Homo sapiens: one gene and its partner. The protein of the gene in region 1 purifies or fractionates together with the protein of each later gene. This does not show direct contact. Each region holds a gene or a part of one and is shown on either strand. Other genes may lie near its edges.

Evidence for each region. The genes of interacting proteins can lie anywhere in the genome.
Region 2: the proteins of MAPK4 (region 1) and SFXN2 purify together in Homo sapiens (affinity purification with mass spectrometry, with the first as the bait; one large-scale study listed by BioGRID). This does not show direct contact.

The regions. Positions count from the first base shown.
Region 1 is NC_000018.10:50,557,860-50,563,922, forward strand, and holds the start of MAPK4 (mitogen-activated protein kinase 4), read left to right. Parts: upstream 1-2,227; 5' UTR 2,228-2,384; intron 2,385-2,402; exon of another isoform or gene 2,403-2,900; intron 2,901-6,063. UniProt on the Homo sapiens protein: Atypical MAPK protein. Phosphorylates microtubule-associated protein 2 (MAP2) and MAPKAPK5.
Region 2 is NC_000010.11:102,738,636-102,741,313, reverse strand, and holds part of SFXN2 (sideroflexin-2), read right to left. Parts: 3' UTR 1-2,678. UniProt on the Homo sapiens protein: Mitochondrial amino-acid transporter that mediates transport of serine into mitochondria. Involved in mitochondrial iron homeostasis by regulating heme biosynthesis.

The DNA of each region.
Region 1 (6,063 bases):
GGGCACCCCTGGCCTAGCTACCGAGTTACAGCTTCTGGTGTCTAGTCACAGGCAGTAAGGAAATGCTGGCTCATTTTTTTTTCCTCCCAGAAAAAAAGTCTTCAAACAGAATGACCTGGTGAACTTCCCAACTCCAGAATTCTGTGCAGTTATTTTCTAGTGACTGACACCGACTTCAGCCAGCTGTTTCTTTAGAAGTCTTCCCTATGGAGTAAAAATAAGAAATAACTTGTTTCCTGATAGCAGCAAGGAGAACAGAACACCACTTTACCTGACAGTGGAGAGCCCCAGACAGATACTCGCTTCCTGTTCATTCCCCTGCCATCGTACGGTAATGGGCACTGATATTAAACATGCATATTTCACAGTCTCTTGTCCCGCGATTTGGAGGATGGCCATTCACTATGTATGAACCACTCACTCATGCTCATCACACAGAGAAAATTACATTTTCCCAGTTGCCAAATGGAAGAGATAAATTATCTCACGTGGACAAGCACATTGCTCTCAAGAGCAGCTTCCAGACCTAAGATAAACAGATTAAAAAAAAAAAACAAAAACACGCTGGAGGGGGACTCTGAGCTTTCCAGGTGTTGATGGGGGTCAGTCTCTTCATTCGGACTCGCCAGATCCTCACTTTGCAGTTAGTGGGCTTAAAGTGGCGGGACATTTGCCCTTCTGTTTCTTTTGGATTAAATGAGCAGCCTTGGGGCCTCTTATTCTTCCTTCATAGAAGAGATGTTATAAAAATGAATAAATCAACACAAAACATTTCATATTTATGCCTACTTGCTGAATTGATACTACTTGTAATGAAAATCAAGGAAGCAAAATGTTAAAATGTTCTCTTTGGGGAAGACACATTGGAATGTCTTACCACAGATATACACACACTCGCTTGTTACACACTCCTTCCTTATCCCTAACTATTCTCTGAGGTTAATGAAGGTCCTGATAACTGCAGTCTCTAACTTAGCATATCATCCTAAACCTACTACCTGCACACATAGGAGTCGCAGCGCAACTATGTACTAATGGCAGCCAACACTCATTACCCTTCATACCACCATCACTGTGCAAACCCTTAGTGCATTTTCCAATATGATCCCACAATCCTTCATTTTTATGTTTTGCCCACGCTAAAATTCGACAGCGAATTCTTGCAACAATTATTAAGCGTCTGGAATTGTATTAGGGTCTGGGGGTAGAGGTGGGGGACGAAGCGGGAATAACTGCAGTACACAGCAGACCCTATGAAAGTGCCAAAACGCAGGTCTCACTCGGAAGGCTTTGGGAGTTGGGAGAGGAGAAGGCTCATGGGCAGCTAAAGCCACCAGTGACCTCATTATGCAATATTTAGGTTATCAGACTTTTCTATGCCTAGAAAAGCAGCGCCTCAACCATTCCAACGGGACGCACCGCGTTCAGTGACGACCCTCATCGGTGCCCACAGCTCTGGGCTCGCTGAAGGCACCACAGAAGCACCAGTTATTACCAGTGTTAGGGTCCAGTGGCTTCTTCTGTCCCTTTCCTCTGGATCCCAAAGTGTTGGTTCTCTTTTGTTAGTTTTATTCCGGTCATGCCAATGAGCACAGATTCACAGCCCAGGCGGCCCGCTCGGAATCCCAGGCCGGCTGGGGACCGGTGCACTTGGGCTCCGCGCCCCCTCGACCCTCGGCCCAGTGCCCCTTCCCGCGCGCGCGGGTCTCCCCGGTTCCAGAGCCCACCGGTCCCCGCCGGCTCCTTCTCCCCACCCACCCTCCCACCGGGCCCCCGGCGGCTGCAGCCGCGCGGGGCTGGCGGGGCGGCGACCGGGCTCAGGCAGATCCCCGCTTCCCGCCTTCTCGGCGCCCCCTCCCTCCCGGACGGAGCCCGAGGATCCCCCACCCACGGCGGGCGTGAGGAAGGGCTTCTGAGTGACTGGAGCTCTACCGCGTGTGCCCCGGGAAGGCCAGGCTACCCGGGACGGGGCTCGGCTCCCCAGGTGAGCTCGTCTCCGCGGGACTGGGTCCGGGAAGGCCCCAGGACCGCGCGGCTGAGCGGCCTGGAGGCTGCGGGAGGGCAGAGCAGGGCGCGCGGGAGACTGCCGCCCCCGGGCGCCCAGGGCCCGGCTCCCCAGCGCCACCGCCGCAGCAGGTGGGGGCCCAGTGGGCGGGGGCGGGGCCCGGCTCTGGGCGGAGCCGAGGCGGCGGCGGCGCAGGCTGGGGCCGGGGCCGGGGCGGGAGCCGGAGCCCGAGCTGGAGCAGCGAGCCGGGCTGTCGGGGCGACCGCGGGAGCTCGCCGTGCGCCGTGGCTGGGACCGGCCTGGCCGAGCGCGCCGGCGCCGCGGCCGCAGACAAAGGGCGGCTCGCGCCCGGGCCGCCACGCTCTCGGGCTCTGCCTCGGTAAGTGGCTCCCCTCCGCTGGCTTTCTCCTCCCGCCGCCTGCGCCTCTCGGAGTTCGGCGGGCTCCGGAGAAGCGGGGAAGAGATGAGACTTCCCCGCCCGCACTGCCTCCCCACCTTACCCTAACAATAAGCCCCCCAGGCCAAGCCACTGCCAAACTAGCGAGTTTCCGAGCGGCGGGGGTCTCCCGCGGGACCCGCCCGGCTGCCCTGGGTGAGCTCCTCGCCTGCAGACCGCGCGCCGGTGCTGTCCTGGACCCGTTTGGGATGGGAGGTTGCCGCTGGGCTCCTCGCGTTGTGTTTAGGGGAGGAGGACGCAGGGGCCGGGCGCCGCTAGGGGACCCCACCCCCGGGGACAGTCCGGAGCGCTTGGGGTCGCCGAGGGGCAGTTCACACTGCGAGTTCAGATTCGGATCGCAGTCCCGATTATCCTCCCCTCCAGCCTCTCCCTTTCTCGTTGAAGGGTTAATACAGCGTCCTCTCCCCTCGCCACCCGACAGAGGCGCCTACACTGGCGGTAGGTAGCCCCTGGGAGAGGGGGAGTGGGGGGACCCCGCCGCTTTCGCCGCTGGGCGACCCAGAGCCCCAGCCTGCCGGAGAGGGCAGCGGCTCGGGTTTGACATCCCAGCTGGGTCCCGGGCCGGCTCCCTGAGCCTCCTCCCGGGTTGCTCTCTATCAGGAAAGCAATCGGAAGTCAGGCCGGCTTTTGCTTTTGTTCTGCCAGCTACTCTACGGAATCGTAGGTGAAGCCGGGGTGGGCGGATGCCCCGGGAGGGGGCTGTGGCGGGAGTTCCAGGTGCGTCCCCGAAATGACCATTGGAGGCGGCGGCTGTTTCCCGCCCCTGGGTGGGGAATGGATTCCGATCGCTAATCGATACCCTGGAGCCAGCAGTGGGTCAGCAGCGTCCCGACAGAGCGCAGCGGCCGCGTACTGTCACGCGCCTCTCCAGCACTCTCGAAAGCACTACCTCGAGACGTGCATTTCCATTCATGGATCTGTGCCTGGGGGTTGATTAATGTCACCCCTGCCTGGGTTGAGGAGTGTCCACAACTGCTCAGTAGCCATTTACTGGGAGGTTACTGTGTGCAAGGCAGCTATCTTAAATAACCTTAATGTAAAATATACTTATTGAGCACCTACTATGTGAAAAGCAGGTATACTGCAGACTTTTCAATTGAATGGATATGTATTGAGCACCTACCCCGTGCGAAGGTGAAGCGTCATGACGTTCTCAATGTAACAGATATTTATTGAGTACCTACTATGTTCAAGATAGCTATGCTATGACCTTATTGTAATATGTATTTACTGAGCACCTACTAAATACTAAAGGCTTTTTTGCTGAAGGGTTGCCCAGTGTACTTTTGGGGTACGGATAGAAACAAGGGAGAGAAAATATAATATCTTCTGAACCTCGAGTCTTCAACTCCTTTAGTGACCTGCGTTTTAACCTTTCCAAACCGCTTGTGTGGTGTATGAAGGGCTAGTCTTCTACACTTGAGGGTACACTTCTATGCTTGAGGGTTTGTCAGACAGGAGCAGGGCTGAATAGTAAAAAGGCTTGCTCTGGAACCTCTTTCCAATTCAGTTTCCTTGCATTAGAAAAGTCAGCCTCTTTGCATAAAGCACCATGGAGTTATCACAGGGAATCAAAGGGCAATAAGGCAAAGCCCTAATGCTCAAAGGGACAGAGAATCCATGCTGGAGACAGACAAAAAGACACCTCCCTTTTAATGCTACTGTCATACCGTGCTTAAACAGCTATTGTGGGAATACTCAGTGCTTTAAACTAAATAACAAAGCAACCTTGGATCATCTGATCCAGAAGTTCTAGACAACTGACCTAACTCCTAGAATTCTGCTTTTGAGCAGTGAGGGATTAATTGTAATTTTTCTTCATGTCAGAAATTAATTGCATGTATTTTTCAATTACTAAAAAAAAGCAAACAAATAGAAATTAGTGATTTGTATTAATCCAGAACCTAATCTGCTTTAACTCAATTACTCCAGATGCGTGAATCTCCTGTTGGGTTGGTTGCAAGTTGACTCAAATTCGTTGTTTCACTTTTGCTGCAGGTTAAAAGTCTGCCTCTTACAAACCCTGGCTATATCACCCTCTTGTTTCTAACTAAACAAGATTTTCTCAAATAAACTTCATTCTGCATTTTGGCCAATAAAAAAAAAAAAAAAAAAGACACCTCCTAAACAAGGAAGGAACCAATAGGGGAAGGGAGAGGGAAGCATGAAGACAGGGCCAGCTGAACCTTCCAGCCCCTCACTCCAAACTGATACCAGTGATGTTGGGGTGAGAGAGTCTAAGTCCCATCATTGCCCATGGCTGGGGCCCTAGGACTGGAATTAAATAGTTTTCCTGCTAAGAGATTTGATGAATCTGTTACTCTGATAATCTTAGGATCTTGAGATGCACTGGAATATCCAGATTGGCGAGAAAATCATATCCATTAGCAAATATTTGAGTATTTACAATGCAATATAGGCATTTATCAGGGAAATGTAGTCTAAGACGTAGTCTTTGTCTTAAAGAACTCTGGTTCATGAGATAAACATGTAAAATGACAACTTGGGCAGCATATATGAAAAGCCAGGAGCAAATTCCTCCTGGAATTTGACATAAAAAATATTCTCACCACATGGAACTGTGGTTTTTCTCTTATCAGACATTGAGAACTCTCTACGTGCCTTGTATGTTTATCTTTTTGCCTTGGCCTCTAGAAATTCCTGGTAATGGCTTTATCCCAGCTTCTTGGTACAATGATTTTTTTCTCCCTAAATTATTTCTGAGACCTCTCTTTTAAATTCTTTATAAAAAACTATATTACAGGATTTTTGTTGTGAACTTGAAAGCCTCTCTGAAATCTTTTCTGTAAGTAAGCCCGTTATGAAAGATACATAGAAAATATGGTAAGTATTAGATGAATGTGCTCATAAGAAAAGGGGGAAAAACTATCCGGAATTTACAGAGAAAACAAACGGGCTTTGCAAGATGAAATAGGATTCAGATGGGCAAAGACAACTAACAAAGACTTTCCTCCCAAATTGAGGGAAATAGCGTTGGCAAAGGTGTCAAGGAAAACAAACCGAATTTAGAGTACTTTAGGTATTTGATAGATCTTCCTCTGGAATAGTTTCCATTCACTCAACACACGAGTGCTGCTGGAACATTTTACTGTGTCAAGGACTAGGCTAGGTGTCAGGTGGGGGGCATCACCCAGAACCAATTGAGGTTCAGCATGATCCCACAGCTGTCAAGGACCTTTGTCTCCTGTCCTGGCTGTGGGGTAGCACTGCCCTGCATCTCAGCCATTCTTTCAAGCATTCCTGGAGTTTTTTCACCTGAGCTGAACTTGACTGTAATCTTCTTCAAGGCCAAGAATGTGACTTTTTTTTCTCTCTGCATCCCTCCCTCCTTGCAGGTTCAGGCAGAAAGAGTCGGTAGGGTAGGTGACACTTATTTCAGTGACCTCTATTGCCCATTTCGTCACTCCTTCCTGGCCTCATCAGGGCCTGCTATGCTCTCTTCCTCTCCATCATTTTCAGCTGTTGAGAGCCTTTCACTGTATGCAAACTGGTCTCAGGGGAAAACCAATCTGTCATCGGTCACTTTCTCTTAAATATGAATGTAGGTCACTGTGTTCTCTCTTCCAGGGGTCTTTGCACT
Region 2 (2,678 bases), on another chromosome or scaffold:
CCATTGCACTCCAGCCTGGGCAAGAAAGTGATACCCTCTTTCTCTCAATAAATAAGAAACCCCAATTCAGTTTGGCAAACACAGGGGATTTTGCCCCAACTTCCCTTTCTCCTTTTACCTGAAAGCTCAAGCTGAGCTATTGGATAGGACAGTCTGGATTAGCACTTCCCACACCAAGGCCTTTTAGTAACCTTAACTGCCTCTTATTCAACATCCCACAGCAGCCAACTCAAAGAAGAGAGATGTTACAAAATGAGACTGAGATGCAGTTTGAGTGACCACTTTTTAGAATGTCCCTGAACATTATAGCCACCACATACCTTCCAGACATTTCCAAAAGAGCAGTTGTCTATAAGAGAACAGGAAATCCAAGAGGCTTGAGGAGCTGAGAAGGAAGGGGAAACATTGTATGTTCTGAAAGAACATCAGTCAGGAGTTGTTTCCAAGCTCTACTGGCTCTGGTAATGTTTCCCTTTTCCTATTTGCTTTTGGAAATAAAGCCAGGTCTCCTGTCCTAAAGAAGCTAGCTCAAAGACAGACTTTTCTGTTCAGACACCAGCTAAAATCAAATTGCATATGCTACAACATGGATGAACCTTGAAAACATTATCCTAAGGAAAGAAACCAGACACAGAGGGCCACATACTGCATTACTCCACTTACATGAAATGTTCAGAATACGCAAATCTCTAAAGACAGGAAGTGAATTGTGAGGCGCTGGCAGGTAGGGAGAATGTGGAGTGACTGCCAATGGGTATGGGGTTTCTTTTGGGGCTAAGAAAAATGTTCTGAGACCAGATGCAGTGGCTCATGTGTGTAATTCCAACACTTTGGAAGGCTGAGGGAGGAGGATCACTTGAGGCCATGAGTTCGAGACCAGCCTGGGGCAACATAGTGAGACCTCATCAAAAAAATCAAATTAGCCTGTGGTCCCAGCTACCCCAGAGGCTGAGGCAGGAGGATTACTTGAGCTCAGGAGGTTGAGGCTGCAATGAGCAGTGATTGCACTACTGCACTCCAACCAGGGTAACAGAGTGAGATCCTGTCTCAAAATAATTCTGGAATTAGTGGTGATGCTTGTACAACTTTGTGACTACATTAAAAACCACTGAATTGTACACTTTAAAAGGACTAAGTTTATGGTATGTGAGTTATATTTTAACTTTTTTAAACGGGGAGAAAAATCAAGTTGCAGTGAATTCCTTGGCCTCGGGGAGGAGGCCCTTTCCCCTTAGAGCAGTGCTCCTCCACGTATGGTGCCAAGACCAACAGAATCAGCATCACCGGGCAATGACTAGAAATGCACGTTCTCAGGCTCCAGCCCAGAGTGACAGAATCTGGCAATGGATCCTGCAATCTGTGCTTTAACAAGCCTGCCAGCTAATTCTGATGTGTTTTCTTTTTTTTTTTTGAGACGGAGTCGCCCAGGTTGGAGTGCAGTGGCGCAATCTTGGCTCACCACAACCTCCACCTCCCAGGTTCAAGTGATTCTCCAGTCTCAGCCCCCCGAGTAGCTGGGATTACAGGTGTATGCCACCACACCCAGCAAATTTTTTGTATTTTTAGTAGAGATCGGGTTTCACCATGTTGATCAGGCTGGTCTCGAACTCCTGACCTCAGGTGATCCACCTGCCTCGGCCTCCCAAAGTGTGGGGATTACAGGCATGAGCCACTGCGCCCGGTTGATGCATGTGCTTAAGAACCACTGCTCCAGGGCAGGGGAAACTTTTTGTGTCAAGGATCAGACAGTAAATATTTTAGGCTTTGTATGCCACATAGGTAGGGTCTCTGTCATTCCTGTTGTTCCCTTTTACAACTCTTTAAAAATGTAAAAACATTCTTAGCTTCCAATTGCACAAAAACAGGTGGCAGGTGGATTTGGCCCCTTGAGCCATAGCTTGCCAACTCTTGCTCTAGGGCAACACAGCTCCCATTCTGGGAGATCTGGAGCTTCCTGTGGAGACAGGTGGATTTCCCCTTTAATGAGGGAAATAAACAACAGCCTCCAGGCATCAGACAAGTTCCCCTTATATAGTAGTTGTGATACCTTCTGACATGCCAAGGCCAAAGTAAGGCCAGATCCTGCTTTCCATTCAGGCTTCATTAACTTAGTTTACAGTTTGTGTGTATGTGTGCCTGTGTGCTCTTTCAACAAATTTATTCAATTCACAGTGATATCTGTTGGACAGAGTCAGCAATCCTACCAGACAAAACTCATACACACATTGATTCCAGATGAGAAACAACAGTCCCCCAAGGAGCTTGAGAAATCACCTAGGGCAGCCAAGCTGGGGAAGGGAAGTGGCTGTGCATTGCTGTGTGTCCTTTAAGGCTCTTTGGTCCTGGTTGATTTCCTCTTAGAAGGTTCCAAATAAAACTTCCCTTTCCTATTCAGTACACACCAGTCTTTCTTTGGTGTTTAACCTAATGGGCTGAGGAAGGGAGGCAGCCAGGAAATTATACCCATTAAAGTGTGTGGTTAATGCCTATATATATCATTTTTACTCACAGTTAGTGGACTTATCTTTTAAAACAGAGGTATGTGGCAGTGGGGTAAGAGAACTTCCCTTATTATAGAGAAGATTCCAAGAATAGGTTCAGACATGATTTGAAGAACCATGTAACTCTGCTGCCTTGCACGGTCCCCTTTTTAGCACTAATAACTCCTAAGTGTCTGA